Linked DNA regions of Homo sapiens. The protein of the gene in region 3 purifies or fractionates together with the protein of the main gene of each other region. This does not show direct contact. Each region holds a gene or a part of one and is shown on either strand. Other genes may lie near its edges.

What was found.
Region 1: the proteins of SYT11 (region 3) and PCDHGA5 purify together in Homo sapiens (co-immunoprecipitation; one large-scale study listed by IntAct). This does not show direct contact.
Region 2: the proteins of SYT11 (region 3) and EIF2AK3 purify together in Homo sapiens (co-immunoprecipitation; one large-scale study listed by IntAct). This does not show direct contact.
Region 4: the proteins of SYT11 (region 3) and PRIM2 purify together in Homo sapiens (co-immunoprecipitation; one large-scale study listed by IntAct). This does not show direct contact.
Region 5: the proteins of SYT11 (region 3) and GDPD5 purify together in Homo sapiens (co-immunoprecipitation; one large-scale study listed by IntAct). This does not show direct contact.
Region 6: the proteins of SYT11 (region 3) and PRICKLE3 purify together in Homo sapiens (co-immunoprecipitation; one large-scale study listed by IntAct). This does not show direct contact.
Region 7: the proteins of SYT11 (region 3) and ACVR1B purify together in Homo sapiens (affinity purification with mass spectrometry; one large-scale study listed by BioGRID and IntAct). This does not show direct contact.

The regions. Positions count from the first base shown.
Region 1 is NC_000005.10:141,362,713-141,367,637, reverse strand, and holds the start of PCDHGA5 (protocadherin gamma-A5 isoform 1 precursor), read right to left. Parts: upstream 3,477-4,925; 5' UTR 3,308-3,476; coding exon 887-3,307; coding exon of another isoform or gene 866-886; exon of another isoform or gene 1-865. UniProt on the Homo sapiens protein: Potential calcium-dependent cell-adhesion protein. May be involved in the establishment and maintenance of specific neuronal connections in the brain.
Region 2 is NC_000002.12:88,571,965-88,575,464, forward strand, and holds part of EIF2AK3 (eukaryotic translation initiation factor 2-alpha kinase 3 isoform 1 precursor), read right to left. Parts: exon of another isoform or gene 3,483-3,500; coding exon 2,702-3,482; exon of another isoform or gene 2,550-2,701; intron 1-2,549. UniProt on the Homo sapiens protein: Metabolic-stress sensing protein kinase that phosphorylates the alpha subunit of eukaryotic translation initiation factor 2 (EIF2S1/eIF-2-alpha) in response to various stress, such as unfolded protein response (UPR).
Region 3 is NC_000001.11:155,862,567-155,866,967, reverse strand, and holds part of SYT11 (synaptotagmin-11), read right to left. Parts: intron 1-4,401. UniProt on the Homo sapiens protein: Synaptotagmin family member involved in vesicular and membrane trafficking which does not bind Ca(2+). Inhibits clathrin-mediated and bulk endocytosis, functions to ensure precision in vesicle retrieval.
Region 4 is NC_000006.12:57,530,145-57,534,545, forward strand, and holds part of PRIM2 (DNA primase large subunit), read left to right. Parts: intron 1-2,266; coding exon 2,267-2,339; intron 2,340-4,401. UniProt on the Homo sapiens protein: Regulatory subunit of the DNA primase complex and component of the DNA polymerase alpha complex (also known as the alpha DNA polymerase-primase complex) which play an essential role in the initiation of DNA synthesis.
Region 5 is NC_000011.10:75,438,357-75,442,757, reverse strand, and holds part of GDPD5 (glycerophosphodiester phosphodiesterase domain-containing protein 5), read left to right. Parts: intron 1-176; coding exon 177-395; intron 396-954; coding exon 955-1,112; intron 1,113-1,447; coding exon 1,448-1,595; intron 1,596-2,796; coding exon 2,797-2,879; intron 2,880-4,401. UniProt on the Homo sapiens protein: Glycerophosphodiester phosphodiesterase that promotes neurite formation and drives spinal motor neuron differentiation.
Region 6 is NC_000023.11:49,179,652-49,184,052, reverse strand, and holds part of PRICKLE3 (prickle planar cell polarity protein 3), read left to right. Parts: intron 1-135; coding exon 136-319; intron 320-4,246; coding exon 4,247-4,360; intron 4,361-4,401. UniProt on the Homo sapiens protein: Involved in the planar cell polarity (PCP) pathway that is essential for the polarization of epithelial cells during morphogenetic processes, including gastrulation and neurulation.
Region 7 is NC_000012.12:51,954,411-51,958,811, reverse strand, and holds part of ACVR1B (activin receptor type-1B isoform a precursor), read right to left. Parts: intron 1-4,401. UniProt on the Homo sapiens protein: Transmembrane serine/threonine kinase activin type-1 receptor forming an activin receptor complex with activin receptor type-2 (ACVR2A or ACVR2B).

The DNA.
Region 1 (4,925 bases), on a different chromosome or scaffold from region 3:
AAACTTTCCAGACTTTAGAATGCTACATGTTATCATTAATATAAATTTTATCTACTTTTCTGATATTTATTTATTTATTTATTTATTTATTTATTTATTTTGAGACGGAGTCTCGTTCTGTCTCCCAGGCTGGAGTGCAGTGGCGCGATCTCGGCTTACTGCAAGCTCCTCCTCCCGGGTTCACCCCATTCTCCTGCCTCAGCCTTCCGAGTAGCTGGGACTACAGGCGCCTGCCACCACGCCCGGCTAATTTTTTGTATTTTTAGTAGAACAGGGTTTCACCGTGTTAGCCAGGATGGTCTCGATCTCCTGACCTCGTGATCCGCCCACCTCAGCCTCCCAAAGTGCTGGGATTACAGGCGTCAGCCACCGCACCCGGCCTCTTTTCTGATATTTATGACCCAGAAGTTCTCTGTACCTTTCCACTGATTTATGTAAATACTGTAAATTATTTCCTTAAACAAATTTCAGGTAGACTAAAATATCAGTCCTATACATTATCCTTTCCAAAACACATTCACTAATGGTGTCTAGGCAGACACTCAAAAGAGAACAATATATCTAACAATTTGAATAAATAAAACATCTTTTCTATTAATAGAACTGCAGTTCCAATATAACAAAATATTTGGGTAAAATGATTATATTTAACCACTTTCCTTTAAGGTATTTGTTTCACTTAAGTCTACAGATATCAGCTAGACTTCCCAAAACAGAATTTGAAAACAAATGGAGAAAGCATGAATTATATAAAAAAAATTAATCTCCAATACAGCAAATAATGTTCCACTATTTACATAACTAGCTGATTCTGAATATGACAGAAACATGAAAAAGGAAACAAATGAAAATGTTCTGGTCATCCTTACCGAAAGAGAAAACTAACCTGAACTCGCCGTTCTTCTTTGTTTGCATCTACCTTATCAGACATCAGAAGAGGCTCGCTTTTCTCACAGCTCTCTTCACTAAGGAGCGTGTCTGCGTAGTTGGGCTGGGGAAAGATCAGGTGACTCTTCCTCGAGTCCGCGGTGAGGGAGACCTCGTGGGAATAGGTCTGCAGGAAAGCCCGAACCCCATCCACGCCCACAAAGTGCGAGGCGGGCACACCCGCCAACCTGCTGCCTTCAGCCTGAAGCAGGCGTGACTTGTGCCAGCGCCTCAGTCTGAGCACCAGCAGCACGATGACGAAGGCCAGGAAGACGCAGGAGACTGCAGCCACTGCCACCACAAGATAGAGTGTGAGGTCCAGATCCTCAGGGTCAATGGGGGTCTTGATACTGCCTAGGTCAGCCAGGATGTCAGGGATCCTGTCGGCCACGGCAACGGTGACCGTGAAGGTGGCTGACAGAGGGGGCTGGCCATGGTCTTCGACGGCCACCACGAGGCTCTGCTTGAGCGCGTCTCTGTCCAGCAGGGCTCGCGCTGTGCGCACCTCGCCCGTGTGCAGCCCAACCGCAAAGAGTCCTGGCTCGCTGGCCTTAAGCAGGCGGTAGGACAGCCAGGCGTTCTGGCCTGAATCTTTGTCCACCGCTACCACCTTGGTCACCAGGTAGCCAGGTTCTGCGGAGCGAGGCGCCAGCTCCACGCCCGTGGAACCGTCTGTGGGGAGGGCGGGGTACAGGATCTCAGGCGTATTGTCGTTCTGGTCCAGCACAAACAGGCTCAGCGACACGTTGCTGCTAAGTGGAGGGTTCCCACTGTCGCTGGCTGTCACCCACAACTGTAGGTCTCTCAACTGCTCATAGTCGAAGGATCTCAGAGCATACAGGACACCGGTGTCAGAGTTAATGGATACATAGGAGGACAAGGGCGCCCCCTGAAATGTGTCTTCAGCCAGGGAGTAGGTGACTCGAGCGTTGTCGCCGCTGTCGGGGTCATGGGCTGTCACAGAGAAGATAGAGACACCTCTGGGATTGTTTTCTGTGACAGAGGTGGAGTAGGAGGCTTGAGGGAAATTGGGTGGGTTGTCATTAACGTCTGCTACTTTCAAGGGGATGTGGCTTTCTGTAGAGAGGGGCGGGGTTCCATGGTCCATGACGGTTAAAGTGATATTATAATCTGAAGTCTCTTCTCTGTCCAGGTCCCTAGTTGTTAATAGGTGATAGTAATTATCAACTGACTTCTCCAATTTAAAAGGCAAATTCCTAGGAATAGAGCATGCAATCTCACCATTTTCTCCAGAATCACCATCATGTACGCTAAACAGCGCGATTACAGTTCCGGGAAGACAGTCTTCAGAGATCGAACTGGTCAGAGAGGTGAGGATCACTTCGGGGGCATTGTCATTCACGTCCTGTACTGTGACCACCACCTTAGCGCTGGCAACAAGAGCGCCTCCATCCTGAGCTACCACTTCCATGAGGTAGAATCTGGATTCTTCATAGTCCAGTGATTGTAGAGTTGAGATTTCCCCCAGGTTGGAATCAAGTTGGAAAGTCTCCGAAATTTTTTCTTCTTCATTGCGAAAAGAGTAGGTCAATTTCCCGTTTATTCCCTCATCTGGATCCGTGGCGGTTAGCATGAGCAGCCGAGTGCCCACAGGTATGTTCTCTGGAACACTCACGCTGTACTCGGATGGGGTGAACAGGGGCGCATTGTCGTTTGCGTCGAGGACCGTAACACGGATGTGCGTGGTGCCGGAGAGTACCGGGTCTCCGCCATCTAAAGCTGTGAGGAGGAGGTCGTGAACAGTCTCTTTCTCGCGGTCTAGGGGCTGTTCCAACACCAGCTCCGGATACTTTTGTCCATCAGTTCCGCTTACCACATCCAGAGAGAAGTGCAGATTGGAGCTGAGCTGGTAACTCCGGAGAGAGTTCACACCCACATCCGCATCCCGCGCGAAGGGAAGCACTAACCGTGTCCCTGCAGCCGCATTTTCATTAACTTTTACTTTTAACTCTTCATCCCGGAAACGCGGGAAGTTATCATTAATATCGATTATTTCTACTTCTACTCCATAAATTTTCATTTTGTTCTCAACCAAGATGTTAAAGTTCACCACACACAGTGGGCTCTGAGCGCAGAGCTCCTCCCGGTCTATCCTGCCCGCGGTGACCAAGCTGCCGCTTCGCGGGTTCAGGGCAAAAAGCTGCGTCCTACCTCTGGAGACGATGCGGACTCCGCGCTCCGCCAGCTCCTGGGGCTCCAGCCCAAGGTCCTTGGCTATGTTGCCGACGAAGGAGCCTTTGTCCAGCTCCTCCGGCATCGAGTAGCGGATCTGCCCGGATCCTGGCTCGCACAGCGTCCCCAGGAGCATGAAGGGCAGCAGCAGCTCTCCGCAGCCCCAGCCCCTAGGTGGACTCGCCATTGCCTTCTCTCTGCCCAATTTTCTCTTAGTTCTGGTTCAGCCTGCTGTTTCCTTATTTATCTAAAGCCGATGGGTACATATTCCCTGACGAAAATGGGCGTGGAGCGTTGGCTTTTCGTAGGAGCTTGTCTGGTCTGTGTGTTTAGTATGGAGGGAGCAGAGTCGGGTCGCCTCTGCGGCAGCTTCTTTCCCACTTTGGTCAACAGCGACACTCAGAGTCCTAACCAGTGACTGCATCAAATTCCATTTTTATTTCTCCTAAGTTTAGTTATAATTTTATTTCTAATAATGTTGCCATATCCTTAATGTTTAACTGTGTAGCGTTGTTTATGACCGTTAATTCAGCTTTAATTCTGAATAGCAAGACTTCCACAATCCCTGAGATCAATATGATTATTAGATCTCAATACCTTACAAAAATTTTATTTAATGCGTCATCGGGGGAGCCTATGTCCTTTATTTACCTCTTATCTATATTTAGTCCATTAAATTAGGACATTCAAATTCTTACCTTTGTAGGATTCAAGATTTCATCTCCTTATTAGGATAAATTTAGGAAAACGTGCTTATTTGCATATAAGAATACCAAGGAAACAAACCCAGTTCTCCATGCACCTTTCCAAACAGGCCTACTGATTTATGTAAGTTATATTAGCTGTCATATGCAGAAGAAATAAAGATCTTTGTTACTTGTGAGGACTTTGAGAAAGTCTCTCCACTATCTCAGACAGCGTTTGAGTTGGGTTAACTATGCATTTTTATGTTTTTCTATTACCATGTTCAAATATTTGTAGTTCCAGTGACAACCAGTATAGTAACTGTGGAGGATGGGGTTTTATTTCATCATCCATGCAGGAAAGCATGAGCAGATACTTGTCGAGAAGTACTGAGTGACCTTTCTATGTTGAGACAGATATTTACTGCTATCATCTTTATATGACAACAGAAATAGAAAAACCTCTTGATTGAAAAAAATGGACATTTCAGAAAGTCATTTTATTTAATAACACTTTCATAGAAAACTAAGAAAATAAAAATTCTATATAATTAGGAAATTCAAAAGCAAAGTTTTAAGTAATATTTTGTAGAAAATGATGTGAACATAGGTTGTAAGATTTTTCTCAATGTGTAGTTTTTCTTAAGAGCAATTTGTTAAAATGCATGTTAGAGAATGATTTCTCACATTTGTTAAATGCACTCTTTCTAGCAGACACCTCAGACCTCAAACATTGCCTGTCCTTTAGAAATACATTTGTGATTCCAAGACATTTAGCTTACTGAGTGTTGGTCTTCAAGTCAATGGGACAATGTCCTACCCATGCCCTGTGATTAACAAGCCATGCCATTATGCAAAAGTCTTTCTTCTTTGTTTCCCAATTTCCAAAGCCTACTAAAATGAAGACTCTCTTTACTCTGAAGTATTATGATTCTAAGAGGAAGTAAAACTAAAATTTGAATAACAAAGAGCCTGAAGGTGAAACTAATTGCCTAAAGTCTCAATAGCAACAAATCTGCAGAGAGAAGTAATGTAAAGATGAGGAAGAAAAAGAAATACAGTGCAATATCTCATGTGATAAAGGTTTGCAATCATGGGTAAATAAATCTCACACTTCAGAGA
Region 2 (3,500 bases), on a different chromosome or scaffold from region 3:
CTCTGCGGGTAATATGACCACCATTCATAGCCCTTGAAATGAGGAAAAAGGAAGCCATTTAGCTCATGAAATTGAATTTCATCATGTTTCAAATACTGCCAGAAAATAACATTGCATTCCCAAACTCTAAAATACCATTAAACGATTTTGACTTGGAAGCATGAAGTTATTGTGTATAAGATCTATGGTAATAATCTGCAGCTCTCCAATAAATAACTTTGTACCAGAGGCAATAATAGACTATCCTGCATTAAATGTCATCTTTCTTCCCAACTCCCAACATCTGATGGCAGTTGTTATTTACTGAACCCTATAATAGACAAGCTTTTTGGCTCTCCAGTATCTATCTCCCTGTGCTTCCAGCAGAAGTATCTTGACTTTACTTTGGGAACTTCCTTCTTGCTGACTGTGCAGCAAAACCCCACGGTTAGTGTGGAAGGCATCCATGCTCTAAAAGTTGCTTACGCCAATCCATGGAATCCCATTGCCTGGCTAGGGATTGTTGAGGGATGGGTAGGTGTCCTTGGTTTAAGTAGAATAAAATTTCTGATAGTGGGAAAAAGCAATACTTTTCTCTCCACCCTCTACCCCACCAACTCCAAAAGACTTAAATAGAAACAAGAAATGGGGAGGACAGAAACCAGGTTCTGGCTAAATCACTTGATCTCAGCTAAAGCTTTACCTGAATTCTCAACAGTTTAGCCATGTGGGCCAACAGATTTCCTTTTCTGGTTAAGTCAGTATAAACACTTTTGAGTGCAAAGAAAATAAAATTCAAAATAAATGGTATGACCATCTAGAACATTCAGGCATTGTACTGAGACTATAACAGGTAAAAGAAACAGATATGGTTCATACCCCATAGAAACCACAGAATAAATAATCCAGGTGTGATGAGAATAATGAAGAAGGACCAGGTTTCTGTCAGAACAGTGTATATCAAGAGGAACTGAGAAAAGTTCAGAGTGGAGAAAATAGAAGACTAGAAGTTAGTCTGAAGAGGCAGGAGCCAAAGTCCTGAAGACAAAAATGTGACCAAAATATAACAGGGGGAGAGGGCCTAGAAGGTTTAACATTGAGCTCAAAGATTTAGGTCAGAACGTAGCAAAATGTACAGCTTTTTCACCCAGGAACAAAAATCTTGGCTTTTTTTTTTTTTTTGGTTGGGGGTGGCGCACTAGAAATCTTTAAAAGGAATTGTCTTCTATTTAGAAAGGAATAAAACTTTCTGATTTCTAGAAAAACTAACAGGAATATTAACTTTCTTCTTGCAATTTTTCTGGTGCATAGACAATTACAGAAAAATCTTTAGACAACATTGTAGCATTAAATGGATATTTACCAATATCTCATTTACATTATAAAATTAGCAGAAGAATATTCATTATTAGTGAAAACATGATTCATTGTCTTTCAAGTTGGCATTTGTGTGTACAGCAAGTGTTAAGTACAAGAAGAATGTGTATTTCAGCTAGCTGTTTCCCACCTAGTGATAAGCGTTTACTATATTCAAACCTAACTGCTAGTATTCTCTCAAATTAGGGGTGTGTGGTCTCCTGTAAACTGTCTTCTCCAATCCAACCAAATAATTCATCTCTGAACTTTTCATTCAGTGCAGAACAATTCTTGGCAATCAGTTTGGGCCCACGTCAAAATCACTGAAGCATAATGATTTATATGACTAAATAACAATTATATTAAAAAATAAGAATTATTTCTAATTCCTATTCTTGTTACCCTAAAACTCTTAAAATATACCCAAGAATTTGAAAACCTACTGCTGATTTTAGAAGAAAATAACTTGTGTCCAAATAGCTACTTTTGTGCCTGAAACAAGTCTGTTTTAAGTCTGAAAAGACTTAAAATGGATCCACATCTATCAAGACTTTAAGCTACTTTCATCAGAAAAGTATTTATACATTCACTCCACATCTACTGGTGATGGCTAAGAGTATATGGAATGTGGGAAATTAGTTAAATAAAAGTTCCATGTACTTATTTTTAGAAACACTACTACGGAAATGTCATGTTTTAGTAAGACTCTTTAATAATTTTGCATATTATATTACTGCAAAATTCACTACTGAATATATTGAAAATAGAATCCAAGGTTTTAGAGCTGTAAACAGTCATCTGTTAACTATTTGCTACCTTTCCCCATTCGGCTTCTTACCCCTTCCCCCAAAGTCTAAACAGTTCAGAAAAAGAAGCAAAAGTGTGGAGATTTGCCCCAATTCAAGCTGGCTAATGAAGGAACCCATGTCTCTCCTTCCATTCGGATCCCTTTCACCATGCTGCTTCAGAGCCCTGGAGGTATTGGTGTCAGGGTTACTCAAAACCATAGAAAAACAAAAACAAACAAACAAACAAAAAAACAGGCTATATCTGCTCATGGTGGATTTTACCTAAAGATTCTTTTTTCTTTTTTTTCCCTCACCTGGACTACTGAGAATACCTTTTACAGTAAAATGAACACAAACACATTACTGAAGACAATGAATGCATGGTTTGCCTAAAGTTTTCAGACATAAGACTTCTTATTCTTGCAGCAGGCCCCTTCGAGGCTACTTTCTCAGACCTCTGCTCTCAGATGCTTTTACTCTCCCCAACTCTTAAGGATCCTTCAGAGTACTGCAAGTACTGCTCTGAATCACAAAACGTCAGATTGAAACCCCAAGGGTGATGCTCCACAAATACAGACCTTGAGGTCCCTGTGCATCAGTCCTTTACTGTGAAGAAACTCCACTGCCTCTGCGATCTGCAGGAAGATGTGCAGACACACGCTCCTCTCTCTCTCCTCTATGGTACATCGTCCATTCATCCAGTCTTTGAGGTTTTCTTTTCTGCACAGCTGCATTTGAATGTAAAGATACACCTTTGGTGAACTGGGCTGGAGTTTTTCTGTGGTGTTTTTAGTGAGATCTAAACTTAAAGTGGTTGGTCTTGGAGGAGAAATAGACAATGTAGCTTCAGAAGAAGATTTGCTACTGGTGGGCTTGAAAGCAGTTAGTTTATTAGCACAATGGTTGCCAATATGCAATCGATTAGTTTTCGGCTCTTCTTTACTGGAAGCATTATCACAGCCAGAATCTTCAAATACTATTGAAGAGGAGGTTCTCTCCCTTGACCTTACATAAGGAGAAGCTTCAGAAGGACAAAGTTCAAAGGAGTGCCCCTCATCATTGCCATCCATAGTCCCATCTTCCACATCACAGTCTGTAAGGCAACTGTCCTGGAGGTTGTATGCTGCATCCACTGACTCACTGATGTCCTCATGGTCCATTCCTGAGAATTCCAGTGGTGAGAACTGGCTCTCAGATGAACTTGTCTGGTCACAGGAAATCCCTACTGAAAAAGACCTGCTTCTTTGTGGTGAAGGAGCTATGATTTCAATATGTTCTTTTGTAGCGAAAGGATCCATTCTGCGTATTTTAACTGATGGTGCATCCATTGGGCTAGGAGAGCTGAGTGGCCAGTCTGTGCTAAAAGTGGGAGAAATA
Region 3 (4,401 bases):
ATGTGTATATATGTATATGTGTGTGTATATATGTATATATGTGTGTGTGTATATATATGTATTTATGTATACATATATTATTCTAAATAGGAAGAAATAGAGACTTTCTCTTTTCATTATTATTACCTTAATAAATCCTTCACTGGAAGAAATAGGGGTTTTCTTCCCTATTAGTGGAAAATGTCAGATCTCTGCTCAAATGTCACCTTCTTAGGCCTTTCCTGACTCACCTATTTAAAAGTGCAATCTTCTCCATCCTCACCACCCACTCTTCCTAGCCTTGCTTAATTTTTTTCAACATGCCGTCATTCTCGCTCTCTGATACACACACCCCTACACATGTAAGAAAAAAATATATAAAATACATACACAAATATGTAAGAATAAACACCCACACGCATATTATTTTACAATTTATTATTTATCTTCACTAGAATATAAGTCTCATGAGGACAAAAATTTATGTCTGTTTTGTTCACGGCTGTACCCTCAGCACTTAAAACACATAGCAGGCACTATGTGTTGGATGAACAAATAACTAAACAGAAATAGGCCGGGTGTGGCGGCTCACGCCTGTTATCCCAGCACTTTGGGAGGCTGAGGCAGGCAGATTACCTGAGGTCAGGAGTTCAAAACCAGCCTGGCCAACATGGCGAAACCCTGTCTCTGCTAAAATAAAATACAAAAATTAGCCAGGTGTGGTGACACACACCTGTAATCCCAGCTACTCAGGAGGCTGAGGCAGGAGAATCACTTGAAGCCGGGAGGTGGAGGTTATAGTGAGCTGAGATCGTGCCACTGCACTCCAGCCTGGGCAAAAGACCGAGACCCCATCTCAAAAAAAAAAAAAAGAAAAAAAAAAGAGAAAGAGAAATAGATTTTTTTTTTGTTTCCCTTACCCTAGTCTTATCTTTTCCCACAAAAATTGGACCCTCAAGTTTCTTCGCTCCCTCAAGTTCATTGAGGCTAAATTGGGTTTAGGCTTTAAAGGTCCAGATTAGGCCTATAGTTTTTTCCACTTTACTTTTTAGGGGACCACTTGGAAGGGAGGGAGAACTAAGGAAATAAATGTAGCCTGGGCAACATGGCAAAACCCCATCTCTACACAAAAAAATTACAAAAATTAGCAGGGCATGGTGGCACATGCCTGTAGTCCCAGCTATTTGGGAGGCCAAGGTAAGAGGATCACTTGAGCCCAGGAGGTGGAGGTTGCAGTGAGTTAAAATCGTGCCACTGCACTCCAGCCTGGGCAACAGAGCGAGGAAAAAAAAGAAAAGGAAATAGACATAATTCCAGCATTTCCCCGATTCTTTCTGGAATATTCTTTTTTTTTTTTTTTGAGACAGAGTTTTGCTCTTGTTGCCCAGGCTAAAGTACAATGGCACGATCACGGCTCACCGCAACCTCCGCCTCCAGAGTTCAAGCAATTCTCCTGCCTCAGCCTCCCGAGTAGCTGGGATTACAGGCATGCGCCACCATGTCCGGCTAATTTTTGTATTTTTAGTAGAGACAGGGTTTCTCCACGTTGGTCAGGCTGGTCTCGAACTCCTAACCGCAAGTGATCCAATTGCCTCGGCCTCCCAAAGTGCTGGGATTACAGGCATGAGCCACCGCGCCCGGCCTAAAGCATTCTTGTATCAGGCATCTGTGCAGCTCACTGCTTCACTTATCGTGAGCCCCGAACCTCACTGGATGAGGGAAATATTTCCTGTCTGCCCCAAGTAAGATAATGTCCCCATCACCCTTCCTTAATTTTCTTCATGGAGCTTATTATCCTGACATATATTTATTATCTTTCTTTGATCACTAGACAAGCTTAATAAAACAGCAACTTTGTCTGTTTTGTTCACTGCTATAGTTCCACGTCCTAGAACTATGCGGCATGTAGTAAGCGTTCAGTGAACAAAAGAGTCAGTGAATTCAAAACAGCCTCCACAGATTAGAAAGAGAGGATTGAGGCCTGGTGCGGTGGCTCATGCCTGTAATCCCAGCACTTTGGGAGGCTGAGGTAGGCAGATCACCTGAGGTCAGGAGTTCGAGACCAGCCTGGCCAACATGGTGAAACCCTGTCTCTACTAAAAATTCAAAACTTAGCCTGGCATGGTGGCAGGTGCCTGTAATCCCAGCTACCTGGGAGGCTGAGGCAGGAGAATAGCTTGAACCTCGGAGGCGGAGGCTGCAGTGAGCTGAGATTGTGCTACTGCACTCCATTCTGGGTGACAGAGTGAGACTCCATCTCAAAAAAAAAAAAAAAAAAAAGGATTGAGTCAAGATGATTACATATATCAGGGATAAATGTAAATTTCTATTTGGACTCAAAAACCTATTTATAGTCAATAACCTCACTTGATGAGTCAAAAATGACTTAGGAATTTAGGCAACCACAATCTTGGACTATAATTAGTATAATGCCTACTGTTTTCCCTTCTATTAGAGGTATCCTCTCCTATCCTCTCCAACCAATCCATGGCTTTTTCTTCCCTCCAAACCTAGATGAAGGGTTTATCTTCTCTAGAAAGCCTATGAGCATCATGAGCACAATACTATGAGCATAATGTCCAGATTACATGAGAGGCAGGTATAATTTCATCTGCACTGGTCATAATATACATGTAATATTGTGTATAGCAGTGACAATAATAAAATTGCTATTTTTTGTGTAAATTTATATGTCCCTGCCAGGCATTGTGGTAGAGCTTACTTTTTTTATTTCTTTTGAGACAGCGTCTCATTTTATTGCCTAGGCTGGAGTGCAGTGGCACAAGCTTGGCCCACTGCAACCTCCACCACCTGGGCTCAAGTGATCCTCCTGCCTCAGCCTCCTGAGTAGCTGGGACTACAGGCACATGCCATCACACCTGGCTAATTTTCGTATTTTTTGCAGAGATGGAATTTCACCATGTCACTCAGGCTGGAGTGCAGTGGCATGCATGATCGCAGCTTACTGAAGCTTTGACCTCCCCAGTTCAAATGATCTTCTTGCCTCAGCCTCCTGAGGAACTAGGACTACAGGCATGTGCCATCATGCCTGGTTAATTTTTTTTTTTTTTGAGATGGAGTCTTGCTTTGCCCAGACTTGAGTGCAATGGCGCGATCTCGGCTCACTGCAACCTCTGCCTCCCTGGTTCAAGTGATTCTCCTGCCTCAGCTTCCTGAGTAGCTGGGATTACCAGCACATGCCACTACACCTGGCCAGTTTTTGTATTTTTAGTAGAGACGGGGTTTCACCATATTGGCCACGCTGGTCTCGAACTCCTGACCTCAAGTGATCTGCCAGCCTTGGCCCCCCAAAGTGCTAGGATTACAGGCATGAGCCACCATGCCCAGCTAATTTTTAAATTTTTTTTAGAGATGAGTCTTCACTATATTGCCCAGGTGGTCTTGAACTCCTGGGCTCAAGCAATTCTGCTTTAGTCTCCACCAAATTGCTGGGATTACAGGTGCAAGCCACCATGCCTAACCAAGGAAGAGTTACATTTTATTTAAAATATATATTTATTGTTATTATTTTTTTAGAGACGTGGTCTCACTCTGTGGCCCAGGCTGGAGTGCAGTGGTGCAATCACAGCTCACTGCAGCCTTGAACTCCTGGGCTCAAGCAATCTTACTACCCTAGACTCCTGAATAGCTGGGACTACAGGACCATGCCACTATGCCTGGCTAATTAAAAAAAATTTTTTTTAGAGACAAGGTGCTATGTTGCCCAGTCTGGTTTTGAATTCCTGGCCTCAAGATCCTCTTGCCTCAGTCTCTTGAGTCGCTGGAATTATAAGCACGACCCACTGTACCCGGGTACATTTTAAAATAATATAGATAAGGAGCAAAACATTATTAACAAAATAAATCAAGGTGACCATGTCTATATCCATACCGAATAATAATAGTGTTTAGTCTCAAAGTATTAAATGAAATAGCTTTTAGGGAAAGTTTTCACAAAATGGAGACAGCCTTGGTAGTAAGCTACTTGAAGGCAGGCAGGAACAATATCCTATGGATCTTTGAATCCCTCAAGAGTCTCTTGCTTCTAATAGGAGTTCAGTAAATATTTGGTTGAACAACTAATTGGATTCAGTTGCCATTAAGAATGGGCACAGCCTAAGGAAGTGGCTCTCCATTCATCAATCAGGTGCTTTCCTGCAAATTGTTTGCTACTCATTAGTGAAACTGAACACTGTCTCTATGAGAAGAGGAACACAGCAAACTACCAAGACAGGCATATTTTTTGGAATGATCATAAAGAGAGATCTGAAGGCTTAGATTAGGAGACACCTGGGCAATTCTTTTGGCTCTATCATAGATTTATTCCCTGCAGCAGTGCGGTGGAGGAGCGGGGGGCAACCCACTGCTGCTTACATATTTACAATGCATCAACTTTTATTGTTAGAAAATGGAGATAGGGTA
Region 4 (4,401 bases), on a different chromosome or scaffold from region 3:
GCAAACCATAGCACATGTGTGTGCTATGGAAGACATATGCATGGAAAACATCCAGAAAGTAAGTGGTTCTCAAAAAAAGGTGCTTTCAATTCAAGTTTACATAGCAAATTCAACTAAGAGCAATAAATTTCTAGAGAAGTGACATGGCAAAGGAAAAGGACTTTGAGTCTCTGGTGGCAGCAACTTGTGAGAAGGCAAATAAATGGGAGATAAAGACCAGTTGGTAAAGCTTGTTCATATAGTTTCCTCTGGGATCATCTCCACATAATAAGAATCTGAAGTTATCTTCACTGATCAACCTTTGTTCTCACTGGGAAAAGGTGGGCAGGATGACTTTTGTCTTTGTGAATCTGTGTTTTGCTTTTAGGCAGATAGAGGGAGGGCGGAGAACTTTCCTGAATCTGCTTCTTCTTAAATTGCCTTCACTCAATAATCCTTCATATTTTGGGGGGTGGCATCTTCTGGTTTCCCTCAGTATTAGTCTACTCATCCTGCTCTCAGAGTAATTCTCAGGTCCTTCTTAGCCTGTAGGAGGAGGACTTGCAGGGAGGGGAAATCTGTACCTTTTTTTTTTTCTTTTTTTTGATACAAGGTCTTACTCTGTCACCCAGGGTGGAGCATGATCTCAGCTCACTGCATCCTACACCTCCTGGGCTCAAGCCATCCTACTGCTTCAGCCTCCTGAGTAGCTGGTACTACAGGCACACACCACCATGCCTGGCCAATTTTTGTATTTTTTGTAGAGACAAGGTTTTGTCATGTTGCTTAGGCTAGTCTTGAACTTCTGGGCTCAAGCCATCTGCCTGCCTCAGCCTCCCAAAGTGCTGGGATGACAGGTGTGAGCCAGCTATATTGTGGTTTTGCTTCATAATCCATACCCATTGTTTAATCAGTAAAATTGATTGATTATGGAAACAACAGCCTGTCTACAGAGCATCTTGAGCGTATATGTGGTTCAGCAGGTAGAATCTGTAACTGAGCAGATAGAAAGTAGTATCTGGATTTTTTGTTTGTTTGTTTGTTTTTTTGAGACAGTCTCGCTCTATAGCCTAGGCTCGAATGCTCAGGCATGATCATGGCTCACTACAGCCTTGATCTCCCTGGCTCAAGCAATCCTCTTACCTCAGCCTCCAGAGTAGCTAGGACTACAGGCATGCCACCATGCCCAGGTTTTTGTTTTTGTTTTAATTTTTATTATTTGTAGAGACAGAGTCTTACTCTGTTGCCCAGGTGGAATTCTTTATGATCATAATGACTCTTCACTCCAGGGTTTCCCTTTAGTTGTGGTATTTGTATAATCTTTGGTTTGATTGTGAATTTCTATGTAATCTAGCAGCTGTTTTTTGCTATGTCACACCTGCATGCACCTGAGTCTGTGTTCATGGAGTTGGGCATGAGTAGTGTGTTGTGTGAAGGAGGTCAAACATTACTGAGGTGGGTGGCTTAAGGTAGTATATACCAAGTTATGTTTCCTAATTTGAAGATAATCATGCAGGAAAATTTATTATAGGGAAGAGGATGATATGGTGCGGTGAAAAAATGGGGAATTAGGAATCAAAAGGTTTGAGTTCCCACTGCACTGCTGACTTGCTTTCTGATCCTAACAAGTTTCTAACTCCTCCAAGCCTCCATTCATCAGATGATATACAGAAACGCTCTTTCAGGGGGTTGCAAGGATCTAATTAGAGGCTATTGAAGACTCTTTGTACACTGTAAAATGCTATTCAGATATTATTTATTTTAATAAACAGTGATTGCTTTATGTCAGGCTCTTTAACAAAAATTCTTACAATTCAGACCTCCTATCAACACTGCAAAGCAGGCATTATTATCGCCATTAGTCAATAAGGCACCTGGCATACAGAGAGTAACTAAGTAACTTGCTCACCTACTACTTTTAAGTGATGATTCCCAATTTAAGTTCCAGCTGCTTTTTTGCTATGTTGTCGTGCTGTTAATAAAGGATAAATGGTAGAGGTTTGAACTTTAACAACAACTTGGATTATGCTTCTAAAAAAATGGAAGTGGTGCTCTAGACTAGGAGTCAGGAGGTTCAGACTGTTACTATATTTTTCTATTATTTTGGGGTAAGTTACTTAAATTAATTTCATTAAATACGTTTAAAACACTTGGCTATGTTTCTGCTAAGGTTTACATGTAAAATGCTTTCTTATTTTAATCATTTTCAGAATTTAAAAAATTTCCTTCGAAGGGATCAAAAGTATTTTATGAATCTGTTTTAATATTTTTTTTTCTTTTTTTAAAGTCATTCCTACACTGGCCAAGATTACAGTACCCAGGGAAATGTTGGGAAGATTTCTTTAGATCAGATTGATTTGGTAAGTAGAACATTATTTTAAACTTAGAACTTTATCAATGGAGGGAACATAGATTTTCTTAAATCAAAGACTTTTGGGTGAGGAGATAGAATATTATTTCACTGCTTGCTGATTAATTTTAAAGAAAATCCCATGTCCCACTTAGATGATTTTAAAAAAAATCATAAGAAAATCATTTAATCAGAAAATTATCTGTACTTTTATGAAAACAGAATTTAATCAACTATTCCAAACAGGAATTCTTTTAAATAGCTAAATGGAGTTTGTGTTTACATTTAAATAGTGTATACATTTAATAAAGGGGAAATGGAAAACACTAAGTGTATTAGTTTGTTAGGGTTGTCATGACAACGGAAATTTATTTTCTCACAGTCTAGAGGCTCGAAATCCAAGATCAAAGGGATAGTAGGTTTGATTTCTTCCAGGGCCTTTCTTGTCTCACAGATAGCTGCCTTCTCCTTGTGTTCTCCTGTGGTTTTCCCACTGCTTGCATACATCCCTGGTGTCTCTTCTTTTTGTAAGGACACTGAGTATGTGAGACCAGGGCCCCACCCCCATGGCCTCCTTTAATCTTAATGAGTTCTTTAAAGGCCCCATCTCTAAATATAGTCACATTTGGAGCTACTAGAGGTCAGGACTTGATATATGAATTTCAGGGGGAGAGGACAATTCATCATCCAGTGTAGGCTACGAGATTAATAGATAGCTTATTTTAGCATCATTTGACTTTGTGGTTCCATAGGGTAGCGTACTTTGCCATACTTGTAGAATTTCTCTTTAATACATAACAGCATTTGCACTCCATACACAAAGGGAAAATAAGCCAGCCATAAATAATCTTGGGTTAGACAACTACCAAATTATTCACAATAAATTAAAAATACACAGGGATTTTAATGCTTGGAAACAAGAACTGTAATAAGACTAGTAGAGAAAGAACGTGAGTTTGGATCAGAATGAATAGGTCGTCTTCCATTTGAAAAATTATAAAAAAGTACTTGCAGTTAATATGTCTAGAAATAACAGTAGGGTTGCCTACTTTACACAGTTGATTTGTTGATTTGAAATTTGTTCTCAAAGATGTCCCATCTTTTAATTTTTTTATTAAACACTTATCTCTAACAGTCCACTTTCTCACTTCCACTCATGTGATTTGTGCTTATATAATGTGAATGGTTGGAGGTTAATTCTGTTCTTAGTTCTAGCTAGATGTTTCCCTATTCACAAGCAAATGTGAATTTCATTGGATACTGTTGGAGTTCATAGAAATATTAATTCATTTAATGGATATGTATTGAGCCCATCAGTTATGTAGCAGCCATTGTGCTGTGGATACAGAAGTGAGGAAAACAGAAAATGTCCCTGCCTTCATGGACCTTACATGAGGGAGAGGGACAACATAATAAATAATAAATGAGCAATATAATGTTAAGTGCTATGATGATGATCCTGTCATGGGTCTGTGCCTGAGACCCCGTGGTGAGTAATACAGATGTATCTTTTTCTGGACTGCCTCCTAACTCTGTATCTATATTGTTTGATCTTCACAACAGCATGTCATTTGCATATCCCTTGGTATTTGCAACTCTTCTCCAAATGTTTTCTTTAGTTTTTTCTTCTAACAAATCTGGCTTTCTCAATGCTGTTTCCGCTGTGGGCCTCTTCAAGTAGAGACAACTTTCCCCCCGAGTTCATATATAGGTATGCGGTGAGTGTCTTTCTTGGTCCGCATTTCTCTGCCTTCCATTGTTACAGCTCCAGCTCCTTTAAAGCCCTTGTGATCTTATTATATCATCTGATACCTCCTTTGTTGCTATTCGACCCCCTCCCCCCACACCTGTATTCGTTGATGATTTGAACACCTAGCTAATGGTCTTGTGTACTGGCGCTATTGTTGTTATTGTTCTTGGCCTCTGCAAGATCCAAGTTGATAATTTATCCCCTATCCTGGACTTATGATTCTTTTGTTTGCTTGTTTTCCATGATCATTTTTCTATCTGTATATAGCCAGACACTATCTTTTTAATTTTTATTATTTGGACTACTGCCCACACCTCTTAAG
Region 5 (4,401 bases), on a different chromosome or scaffold from region 3:
GTAGAAAGGTTAGGGCTGGGGCCTCCTACAGCCTCCACATGGCCACAGCCATCAATCTGCCTGACCCCAGCAGACTCTGGCAGCCCAGGGGTCTCCACGCTTGGTTGCCAGAAGGGTATGTGGGGGCCCCCAAAGGGCTGATGATGCAGCCATGTGTGTGTCCCTGTCCCTGCCAGACTGACCCCTTCTGGACAGCCAGCTCCCTGTCACCCTCCGACCACAGAGAGGCCCAGAACCAGTCCATCTGCAGCCTGGCAGAGCTCCTGGAGCTGGCCAAGGGCAATGCCACACTGCTGCTCAACCTGCGTGACCCGCCCCGGGAGCACCCCTACCGCAGCAGTTTTATCAACGTGACTCTGGAGGCCGTGCTGCACTCCGGCTTCCCCCAGCACCAGGTGAGGCCCTGCAACGCAGCTCTGCCCCCGGGAGCCCTGGCCTGGCTAGAGCCCTGCTGCTGCATAGCCTTTCCCTGTTGCACTCCGGACTTCAGCTTTCCCATTTGTAAAATGGGGATCACACACTGCTCACTTCCCTGGCAGGGTCATCATGGGACAAGAGGGGAACAAGAAAACACTTTAAAATGTATAAAGGTCCAGGCGGTCAAGTTATTTCAGTGAAGTGTTGCCCTGTCGTTTGGTGTAATAATCTGGGACCAGAGAAATCTGACATCAGTTTAGGACGGCACACTAGGTGCTAGTGGCCATGTGCAGAGTAGTGGCTGTTTGGGTTTTCCCTCCCGTACTGACAGCAGGCCAGAAGCGAAGTTTCCTGAGTTGCTGCCAGTGCACTTTGCAGCCTTGGCTGGGACTGAGTCCTGCCCTGCTAATGACTTCATCTAAGCTTTCACCGCCTGCCAGGTCCTGTCTCTTAACCCCACAGGTGCTCTAGGAGGAGTAGGTACTCTTACGCATCGTGCAGAAGAGAAGTCTGAGGCTGCCTCTCTTCTGCCTGCAGGTCATGTGGCTGCCTAGCAGGCAGAGGCCCCTGGTGCGGAAGGTGGCTCCCGGCTTCCAACAGACATCAGGCTCCAAGGAGGCAGTCGCCAGCCTGCGGAGAGGCCACATCCAGCGGCTGAACCTGCGCTACACTCAGGTGTCCCGCCAGGAGCTCAGGTGCCTGCCCTGCCCTGGGCTCCTCCAGGAGAGGGTGGGACTGAGTCTCTCCCAGTCCTGCCACCACCACCCCCCAACACACACACACACACACACACACACGGTCGGGCAGAGGGATGGGCACACAGAGGAATCAGGCACACATGGTTCAAAGACAAGAGGGTGAGCGTGTCGGGCAGACCCGGGCTTGTCCCGGAGCTTGGCCCTCTGGAGCCAATGTTCCTTGCCCCGGGCATGGCTGTGAGGTCGTGAACAGGACGTGCTTTACCAGCCCCGACACTGGGCCTGGAGCTGCCAGGGTCCGCATGCTGACCTGCCTCTCCCCTGCCCCACAGGGACTACGCGTCCTGGAACCTGAGTGTGAACCTCTACACAGTCAACGCACCGTGGCTCTTCTCCCTGCTGTGGTGTGCGGGGGTCCCATCCGTCACCTCTGACAACTCCCACGCCCTGTCCCAGGTGCCTTCCCCCCTCTGGATCATGGTGAGTTGGGGGGCAGAGGGCCCCTGGGGGGCAGTGCTGGAGCTGCCTATAGCCTGCCCTGACCACTCGGCAAGCTCTGTGCTTGGAGCTGTCCCTGGGAGGTCTCTAGCATGGTGGGGAGTCCATGGTGGGCGTGCAGGCTTGAGGCATGAGGGTTTCATGGCATCTGGGATCTGCACTAAGGTGCTGGGAGGACCCTGGGCCTCATCCACAGGGAGAAAAGCATCACTAAGGGCTCTAAAGAAGTAAAGAGCTGCTTGGGTTTCTTTGCTTTGGAGGGTAACAAGGACAGGAATAGGAAGCATTGACCGGGCGTGGGGCTCACGCCTATAATCCCAGCATTTTGGGAAGCAGAGGCAGGATGATCACTGGAGCCCAGGGGTACAAGACTAACCTGGGCAACCCTGTCTCTACAAAAAAAAATAATAATAATTAATTAATTTGCTGGCCAAGGTGGCACACGCCTGTAGTCCTAGCTACTCGGTAGGCTGAAGTGGGAGGATTGCTTGAGCCCAGCAGGTCAAAGCTGCAGTGAGCTGTGATCACTCCAGCCTGGATGACAAAGTGAGATCCTGTCTCAAAAAATAAAAATAAAAAAGAATAGGAAACAATTAAAATCTGCTCAGAGAACAGCAAATAAAGCAATATTTTAGCTGGTTGACTGGGCACCTGCAGATAGGTGGTGGCTCCACTGTCACCCTGAGCATGCAGAAGGCAGGTGGAGGGTATCCTTATGGCTGAGAGAATGCAGTGCCAATGAATCAGACCTAAGCTGTGGATGGTTCTATGGGAGAGGAGGGTGAAGGGAAGGCAGCCTGGGGAAAGGGTCGAGACCGATGGATGAGAGTCGGCAGCGGGGGGCGGCAAAGCCATTGTCTTTCAGTATCTGGCTCCTGCTTTGAGGACCCTAGACACACAGACCCTGCAGGCCTAGCACACAACCCCTCTGCCCTGAGCACCATACAGTCCCCTCCTACCCTGAGAGTGCACACGTGTGCACACACACGCCCCGGCCCCCAGGCCCACAGCGCCTGGAGCCTACACCTGCAAAATGTCATCTTCAGCCCCCAGACCCTCTCAGGGTCCTCCCTTGCCCTTCCCCAGTGGCCATGTGGGGTCCTTTGGTCCACGGACCCTCAGTCTGGAGCCTCAGTCTGGACTGGCCATGACTGGAAGTTGGCCTCGGGCCGTCTGTCCACAGCCCCCGGACGAGTACTGTCTCATGTGGGTCACTGCCGACCTGGTCTCCTTCACCCTCATCGTGGGCATCTTCGTGCTCCAGAAGTGAGTAGGATCTGACCACTTCCGTGGCTGTCCCTACCCTGCAGCAGGCCCAGCCCCCACCCCAGCCAGGTGAACCCTCTCCTGAGCCCTGGGCCTCAGCCAGGAGCAGGCCTGACCAGGGAAGAAGGACGGACTCCGGTGGCCCCATCCTCCCTCAGACAGAGGCTGGGTGACTTCTGGAATGAACATGCAGCTGGGATCCCAGAGCCAAGCTCTGCCTTGGGTGGCTATGTGGGCTTAGGTGAATTTCAGCTCCTCACCGGGCTGGCCTGCTCATCTGTTAGCCAGGGCATGGGTTCCCACCAGCCCTCAGCAAGATAGCTGGGGTGTGCTCGCAGTGGGGAGGTGTGGTTGGTCCCAGGGAGGGTCTAGGGCCAGCCTGGGGCCCCCACCCAGCCAGGAACCAAGGGGCTGGGATTTTATTCTTGACTGATGTTCTCTCTCTGTCCCATCCTGCTCTGATCGGCGCATGTCCCTCCTCTCTCCCCCTCCCCCTCTCTCTGCTGCACTCTGGCATCTCACAGCTATCACTTGATCAGGTAATTCTGGTGTGGTCTTCCTCCTCCTTCTGTTCCTCTTTCTCCCTCTTGCCATCCCTTCTCCAGTTCTGTCTAAAAACCCACCGTGCACCAAGCCCTGTGCCCGGGCCACCTCGCAGACAGCGCGCTCGCCTGAAGCCTCCCTTACCCCCGCAATCCTCTTTTCTGCTCCTCCCGTCCCACTGCCGTGTGTGTCCCTCTGCTCCCTGTTCCCACGGCCGTTTCTGCAGGTGGGGACCAGCGTTTCCTTGACAGCTTCCTGACCTGGCCCCTCTCTGCACCAAAGTGTCTCCCTGGGGGAGGGGACCCTGCCTGGGTACCCCCATCCCCCTGCCTCTGGCACTTACAGGGGCCTTCACCACTTGCCCAGGGCAGACCCTACCAAGTTTCTGCCTCTCTCTTCCCATCTTCTCCCTCCCTGGCTCTGCCTCTCCCACTGTTCACTCTTCCTGTTTACCTTTCTCTGCCTCTCCCATCTCTTTCTCTCTCTTCTTTACATTCTATCTCTAACACCCATCCCTGCTTTGCTCCCCGCAACACACAGCCTTTTCCTCATTCCCCTCAGAGGACCCCACAGTGGCTGAGCTTCCTGTTCTGGATATGCCTGGCCGAGAGACCCTGGCCTGACACTGTCCTTCTGGGTTTCAACATGAATTTCCAGGATGGGACCTAGAGCTTAGGGACCCACGTCTCCCTCCGTCTAGTGCCTTAGCCCCTCCTGGGTCAGGCAGCTTCACCAATCAGCTTCTAGGAGGAGATGCTGTCCCTGGCTATGGGACATTCCTTGAGTCATTCCTGTGTCCGCCCAGTTGACCAACATCCACATACACTGGTTGCTGATGCTGTCTGCAGCAGGAGTTGGGCCTTCTCACATGGAGCCCCAGGGTGCTGGGGAGGCCACCCCATGGTGATTCAGTGGCTGGCACAGACACGCTGGGTCTGCTCAGACACAGCCAGGGCAGTGTCATTGTCTCCTGGGGATC
Region 6 (4,401 bases), on a different chromosome or scaffold from region 3:
CCCAGATCCCTGTCCCTGCTCACAGACCTTTGGTGGTGATAATCTGTATGTCCCCGCTCCTCCATTGGACCTGGGCTGCCGAGGGGTTCGGGTGGGCAACTCCTTAGTAATTGACCCCCATCCCGGCCCCCTCAGAAAGATCTGCCAGCATTGCAAATGCCCGCGGGAGGAGCATGCAGTGCACGCGGTGCCTGTGGACCTGGAACGCATCATGTGTCGGCTAATCTCGGACTTCCAGCGCCACTCCATCTCCGACGACGACTCAGGCTGTGCATCGGAGGAGTATGCCTGGGTGCCCCCAGGCCTTAAGCCGGAGCAGGTGACCAGAGGCCAGCCCTCCACTCTTGCTGTCCAGTGGGTGCACACTAATGCTCACACACACACACACACACTCAGGTGGGAACCTATTTCTGGGGCTACGCTAGAGTGTGCAGTCAGACCGAGGGTCCTTCTGGCCCCTCTGTGATGGAAGAGTGGTCAGCCCCCCATACCTTGGGTGACTGAGGGACCAGTTCCTCAGGGCCTGTTCACCCCAATCCTATTATTTTTGATTGATTGTTTTTGAGACAGGGTCTCACTCTGTTGCCCACCACAGCCTCCCTTGTAGCTGGGACTGCAGGTGCATGCCACCCTGCCTGGCTATTTTTAAAATTTTTTTGTAGAGACAGGGTCTCCCTATGTTGCCCAGGCTGATGTTGAACTCCTGGGCTCAAGTGATCCTGCCTCGGCCTCCCAAAGTGCTGGGATTACAAGAGCAAGCCACCATGCGTGGCCCCACTCCCTATTCTACCCTCCCAGCACTTCATTCACCACATGACTTCATTGATTGACTCATTCAACACATAGTTATGGGGCACCTACTGCATGTGAGACACTGTTCTAGGCACTGAGGACACAGCAATGAGCAAAACACAAAATAACATATCTGCCCACGGGCACGGTGGCTCACGCCTGTAATCCCAGCACTTCGGGAGGCTGAGGCGGGCGGATTACTTGAGGTCAGGAGTTTGAGACCAACCTGGCCAACATGGCAAAACCCCGTCTCTACTAAAAGTACAAAAATTAGCCAGGTGTGGTGGTGCACACCTGTAATCCTAGCTACTCAGGAGGCTGAGGCAGGAGAATTGTTTGAACCCAGGAAGCGGAGGTTGCAGTGAGCTGAGATCGTGCCACTGCACTCCAGCCTGGGCAACAGAGTGATACTTCTCAAAAAAAAAAAAAAAAAAATCTGCCCAGGCAGAGGGTAGATTCTGGAAAGGAGGAACACCCAATAAGCAAACCTGTAAATATATGTCAGATGGTGTAAGGGCTATGGAATTAAAAAGCAAGGAAGGTGGGGTGAAGAAAGAGAGAGGGAAGGAGAGAGATGCTAGAATTGTAAATAGGGTGCCCAGAATAAGCCTCTGTGAGAATTTAATGGTTGAGCTGCCCGAAAGGAGGTGAGAAGTGAGCCATGCAGACATCTAAGGTTACAGCGATTCACACAGGCAAAGGGCATGGCTAATGCCAAGGCCCTGAGGCAGGCGTGTGCTTGGCATATGTAAGGGATGGCAAGGCCAGTGCTGCTGGCGCAGAGTGAGCAAGGGGGAGACCAGCTGGAGATGAGGTCAGAGATGTGGCAGGGGCTATGGAGAGGACTTTGGCTTTGCCTGTGAATGAAGGGAAGTCGCAAGAGGGTTGTCAGCAGAAGACAGCCTGGAGGAATAAGGGTGGAATCAGGAGACCAGTGAGGAACCTGATGATGATGGCACTGGCAGTGCAAGGAGTTATATATATATGGAGAGAGAGACAGACAGACAGACAGAAAGGCCGGCATGGTGGCTCACACCTGTAATCCCAGCACTTTGGGAGGCCGAGGCGAGTGGATCACTTGAGGTCAGGAGTTTGAGACCAGCCTGGCCAACATAGTGAAACCCCATCTCTACTAAAAATACAAAAATTAGTCTGGCATGGTGGCAAATGTCTGTAATCCCAGCTACTCGGGAGGCTGAGCCACAAGAATTCCTTGAACCCAGGAGGCAGAGGTTGCAGTGAGCTGAGATTGCACCACTGCACTCCAGCCTGGGCGACAGAGCAAGACCCTGTCTCAAAAAAAAAAAAAATAGGCTGGGTGCAGTGGTTCACGCCTGTAATCCCACCACTTTGGGAAGCCTAGGCAGGCAGATCGCCTGAGGTCGGGAGTTTGAGACCAGCCTGACCAACATGGAGAAACCCCGTCTCTACTAAAAATACAAAAAAATTAGCCAGGCGTGGTGGCACATGCCTGTAATCCCAGCTACTTGGAAGGCTGAAGCAGGAGAAGCGCTTGAACCCGGGAGGCGGAGGTTTCGGTGAGCCCAGATCATGCCATTGCACTGCAGCCTGGGCAACAAGAGCAAAATTCCGTTTAATAAATAATTATTTAATATATATATATGTGTGTGTATATATATATACACATATATATATACGTATATAGATACACGCGTATATATATACGTATATATACGTGTATATATATACACATATACGTATATATATACACATATATACGTATATATACACATATATATACACATATGTATACATCTATATACATATATATAAAATAATTATTTTACGTATATAATTTACGTAAATAATATACGTATAATAATTATACGTGTATATATATATATATATATACACACACACATATATATATATGGGGGGGGGTCTCACTCTGTCTCCCAGGTTTGAGTGCAGTGGCTCAATCACAGCTCACTGCAGCCTCAACTTCCTGAGCTCAAGTGATCCTCCCACCTCAGCCTCCCAAGTAGCTGGGACTACAGGCACGCATCATCACGCCTGGATGATTTTTGTATTTTTTGTAGAGATGGGGTTTTGCCATGTTGCCCAGGGTGGTCTTGGACTCCTGGGCTCAAGCTATCTTCCCCTCTGGGCCTCCTAAAGTGCTGGGATTACAGGTGTGATCCACAGCACCCAGCCTATATTTTGGAAGTAGCACTCAGAGGATTTGCTTGTGGGGGTGGGAGAAAGAGGAGTGAAAGATGACCCTGAGGATAGGTAGATTAACTGATGTGGGAGAGGCCAAGACAGGAGCAGTTTGAGGGGTAAGAGCATAAGTTTGGTTGTGGCCATCTGGAGTTTGAGATGCCTGTTAGACATCTAAATAGCCACATTGCCTGGAACTCAAGGGATAAGTTACAGAGCTGGACGTATGTGTTTGTCATTATGTGTCACAGGCTGGAGGTGACACATTAGCCAGCCAAGTAGATGATATTTACAGCCATAAGGTTGAATGTAATTCCCAAGAAATTGAATGTAGACAGAGGCAAGAGGACCAAGAGCTGAGTCCTAGGATCCTCCTGCATTTAGGGGTCAGCTAGTTGAGGAGGAGCCAAAACAGGGACAAAGAAGGAGCAGCCAATAAGGTGGAAGGAAAACCTGGACTGTGTGGTGTCCTGGAAGCCAAGGGAAGAAAGTGTTTCCAGGAAGAGAGAGTGGTCAGCTCGGTGCAGTGCTACCATCATCAAGTCTGATGACGACTGAGACCTGAACAATGATTTTAACAATGGGGAAGTCATGGATGACCTTGACAGCTTTGGAAGAGGGATGGGAGCGGAAGCCTGCCTCAAGTAGGCTCAAGAGAGATTGGAAGGACAGGAAGTGGAGTGAACACAAGTGCTCATAACTTTTTGAGGAATTTTCCTGTAAAGGGAAAAAGAAAAGTGGATCAGTAGACTGGGCGCGGTGGCTCACACCTGTAATCCCAGCACTTTGGGAGGCCAAGGCAGGCGGATCACTTGAGGTCAGGAGTTCGAGACCAGCCTGGCCAACATGGTGAAACCCTGTCTCTACTAAAAATAAAAAATTAGCTGGGCATAGTGGTATGCCTGTAATCCCAGCTACTCAGGAGGCTGAGGCAGGAGAATCGCTTGAACCCAGGAGGCGGAGGTTGCAGTGAGCCTAGATCGCGCCACTCCAGCTTGGGCAACAGAGAAAGATTCCGTCTCAAAAAAAAAAAAAAAAAAAAAAGGTGATCAGCAGCTGGAGGAGGAAGTGAGGTCAATACATGCAGGAACCCTCAGCGTGTTTGGGAGCTGGGAGCTGAGGGAAATGATCCGCCTTTAGGAAGGAGAGATGAGGGAGTCAGAAGGTCCCTCCTAATGCCTTTCATTTTCTGAGAAATGGGGACCCGCCATCTCACTGCATCCCAACTCACCTCTCATTTCAGTTGTTTTCTCCCACTCCTATGTCCTCCCAGGTATATCAATTTTTCAGCTGCCTCCCAGAGGACAAGGTCCCCTACGTCAACAGTCCTGGGGAGAAATACAGGATCAAGCAGCTGCTGCACCAGCTGCCCCCACACGACAGTGAGGTGAGGAGAGAGAAGACAGGAAGGGCATGCCAGGCACAGCA
Region 7 (4,401 bases), on a different chromosome or scaffold from region 3:
GTACCTGAGCTCTGCCTCCTGTCACATCAGCGGCGGCATTAGATTCTCATAGGAGTGGGAAACCTACGGTGAACCGCGCATGCGAGGCATCTAGCTTGCATGCACCTTATGAGAATCTAACATGCTTGATGTGCCTGATGATCTTTCTTTTCTTTTTTTTTTTTTTTGAGGAGTCTCACTCTGTTCCCCAGGCTGGAGTGCAGTGGCGTGATCTCGGCTGACTGCAACCTCCGCCTCCCGGATTCAAGCTATTCTCCTGCCTCAGCCTCCTGAGTAGCTGAGATTACAGGCATGCGCTGCCACTACCATGCCCGGCTAATTTTTTATTTTCAGTAGAGATGGGGTTTCACCATGTTGGCCAGGCTGGTCTTGAACTCCCAACCTCAGGTGATCCACCCACCTCGGCCTGATGTGCTTGATGATCTGAGGTGGAACAGTTTCATCCCAAAATCATATCTCCCCTACTTCCCCTGTGGGAAAATTATCTTCCACGAAACCAGTCCCTGATGTCAAAAAGATTGGGGACCACTGCCCTAGATCACCATGGTAGGTACTCAACATGCATATGTTTAGTTTGCAGTCTGGAAATGGGACTTCTAACTACATGTATTAAAATTCTGGTTTAGTGAAATTCTACAATTTTATTTCTACCACTTTTGTATACAGTTCTAACAAAATATGGTTAATGCAAATTTATTTGTAACCCCAATATCAACATTCATGGTACCTTCCTGCTCACTGACAGCCATGCACAGAATAGTGAAACATCTGAAACACCCACCACATGCATTCCCAACTGAGGTCAAACAAGGCAACACCCTGCCTTCTTGTTTCAGCTGGCATACTGTAAACAAGTTATCCTTTCTGCAGTATATTTAGTGTCATGCTTTTCATTGATGATTTTGCTGTATAAAATGGTCCCCCACAAGTAGTGCTGAAGTGCTGTCTAGAGTTCCTAAGTGCAAGAAGATAGTGATATGCCTCACAGAGAAAATACATGTTAGAGAAGCTTAGTTCAGGCATGAGTTAATAGTGCTGCTGTCAGTAAAGTTCAATGTTAATGAACCAACAATATATATTAAATAAGGTGTCTTTAAACAGAAACAAAGCCAGGCATGGTAGCTCAGGCCTGTAATCCCAGCCCTTTGGGAGGCCAAGGCAGGAGGATAATTTGAGCCCAGGAATTTGAGACCAGCCTGGGCAACAAGTGAGACCCCATCTCTACAAAAAATTTAAACATTAGCCGGGTATGGTGGCATGTGCGTGTGATCCTAGCCACTTGGGAGGCTGACAAAGGAGGATTCCTTGAGCCCAGGAGTTTCAGGCTGCAGTGAGCTATGATGTTTTTGGCTTTTTTTTTTTTTTTTTTTGACGGAGTCTCACTCCGTTGCCTAGGCTGGAGTGCAGTGGCGCAGTCTCCGCTCACTGCAACCTCTGCCTCCCAGGTTCAAGTGATTCTCCTGCCTCAGCCTCCTGAGTAGCTGGGATTACAGGCACACCACCACACCTGGCTAATTTTTGTATTTTTAATAGAGACGGGGTTTCAGCATGTTTGTCAGGCTGGTCTCGAACTCCTGACCTCATGATCCACCTGCCTCGGCCTCCCAAAGTGCTGGCATTACAGGCGTGAGCCACTGTGCCTGGCCTATGATACACTCTCGTACTATACAGCCTGGGTGACAGAGCAGGACACTGTCTCAAAAAAATAAAAATTAAAAATAAAAATAAACAGAAACACATGAAACAGGCCAGGTTCAGTGGCTCATACCCGTAATCTCAGCAGGTGAAGCCCAGGTGAGTGGATTGCTTGAGCCCAGGAGTTCAAGACCAGCCTGGGCAACATGTCGAAACCCTGTCTCTACCAAAAAGTAAATAAATACAAAAATTAGCCAGGTGTGGTGGTGTACACCTGAGGTCTCAGCTACTCAGGAGGCTGAGGTGGGAGGATTGCTTGAGCCTGGGAGGCAGAAACTGCAGTGAGTGAGATCATGTCACTGGACTCTAACCTGGGCAACAGAGCAAGACCCTGTCTCAAAAAAAGAAAAAAAAAGAAACACATAAAATAAGGTTATGTATTGACAGGTTGAAAAAGTGACCAGAGGCTCGCAGGAACCTAGCCCTGTATTTCCCCTAGGAGCAATGGTTGAAGATTTGGTAATTCAGTTCTACAATTCAACTTTATGGAACTACCACAAATAACAAGACTGTATTAGCCCCATTTTACAGATAAAACAATGAAGCTGATAGAGAGGTGAAGTGGCAGCTCCAGGCACACTATGGCACAGCATCCTGTTTTATTTTCTTCACAGCACTCATGGACTGATAATTGTGTTTACTTATTTATTTTCAGTCTAAGCCATTGCAATTATAAGTTCCATAATAGAGATTTAGGGACTTTTGTTCATCTTGTTCTCTGTTATTTCCCCATGCCAAAAACTGTTCCAGGCACATACCCAATCCAATGAATAAAGAAATCTCCTATATGTTAACTGTGTAAATATTAGGTGTGATGTTATGGTTTAAAGGGAAAGGCAGTTACTTTCATTATGCTAAATTCAAAATATTTAGGGAGACAAATGCAGGCTTAAGACTGGGTGGACACTAAAGAAAACCAAAAAGCCCAGAGTTGCCTAAAGTGGCACTGTCTCTGAACCCTAGAGAGCAGATAAAGATTGCCTGGGATGGAAACTTCACAGCTAAACCAAAGTATGGCAACTCTACAGAGTAAAGGAAAGAAAGATACTCTCTGAAATCATATTTTTGCTTAGCACACCATTTCTCCATAACAGAGGAGAGAGAGCAGACATGGACAGAAATGGTGCCTCTGAAGCCAAAGCTCAAGTTAAACCTGCATGAGAGTGAAAAACTGAGAACAGAAACTCAGAGCAGGTATCTGAACCTGGCCATGAGGCAGTGCCTGCAGAGTGAGAGAAATGTAAGTTGGACTTAAAAGGTTCCCGCATTCCCAGTCCAAGTGGAACTGATGGGCTGTGGCTGCCTGCAGTTATGTCCAGCATCAGAAGCACTGGTGAGAAAGGACTCTAGGATTCCCTTTTTATGAATACAGAGAGGAAAATGAGATTAAGACCCTCTTACACCAACTCCTACAACAACAGCTAACACAAGAACTGAAGACAAACAGGCGAGATCCCAGAATTAATGTTCACTGCTACTCTGAGCAAAAATTGAACAGTAAACAATAGAGATTTCAAAATTATAAAGAGCCACTTCAGTATTCTAATTTAACCTTCAAAAATTAAGATGACCTAAAGCACCACGAACTGATAATTCCATTCCACCTCAACACCCTGTGCTCCTCAGCTATTATGAGAACAGACTGCAACCCAATTCAACTCATGTTCCAAAATGCAACAAGCAGCTTCAACAGGACATGCTGGAAGAAGCAGCACGTCTCATCGTTTACTGATTCATATTTTGGTAGCAAGGTTACAATTAGCTCACCGGTGGAGAATAAACCTATTTATAACACAGCAGTCCACCTGAAAGACATAATCATCTAAAAAGGTTCTTAGAGGAAAATAAGTGCAGGTTCTTCCTGTACTGATTGCAGATTCCCAAGGTCCTTTTGGATAAAGTCCTCAGTCTAACCTTCCTGTGTTCACAGTCACCATTCTGGCCACTTCTCAGCCTCCATGTTCTTATGTAACATTTACATAGTGCCATAAACATACCCAGAGTTGCGTAAGAATTAAAACGTTGCCAAACCAATAAAGCCTAAAGCAGGTCACTCCCTCCAGACTGTCTTTGATTAGCACAGGTATGCTGCCTAGTCGACGATGTAAGAGCCTGCCAGAGACAGAAATTAACTTGAGGAAATCTGAAAGGGGTCTACAAAAAAGCACAAAAAGAAAACCACACTGTGACATGCTGTACGTCTATCAATCACAGAGTATGTTTTTCTGCTCCTTAAGATAAAAAAGTAACCCAGCATTGCTTATTCACTGAAGTCAGAAACTGTGTCTAAAAATACCTCCCCGCCAACTGGCTATCAGTAAGTCAGTCTCACAAATGTCCCAATAAGAGTGACACAAAATATTTCCTTATTTTTACAGAGGGAAAACTGAGGCAGTCACAGAAAGGTTAAGTTACTTGTTCAAGGACAACTTGTAAGGCAGCTAAGTTCTAGGGCTGAAAACCAGCCTCCTCCCTCCATCTGGCTTTAACCTTTAACCAGAGTAGCCATTTTAATATGTTTTATCACATCTGTTCCAGGAGCTGTTTAAACAAAACTAATCAGAGGTCTCTACAAGACTGCACTTCCACTGTACTTAAAATCCATGTCCACTCAACAAAATTACAAGGCTTGGCTTGAAATTAGATTTTTAGTCCGCTCACAAAATTTCAAAATGTTCCTATGAGAATGTCAAATATCTCTCTTGT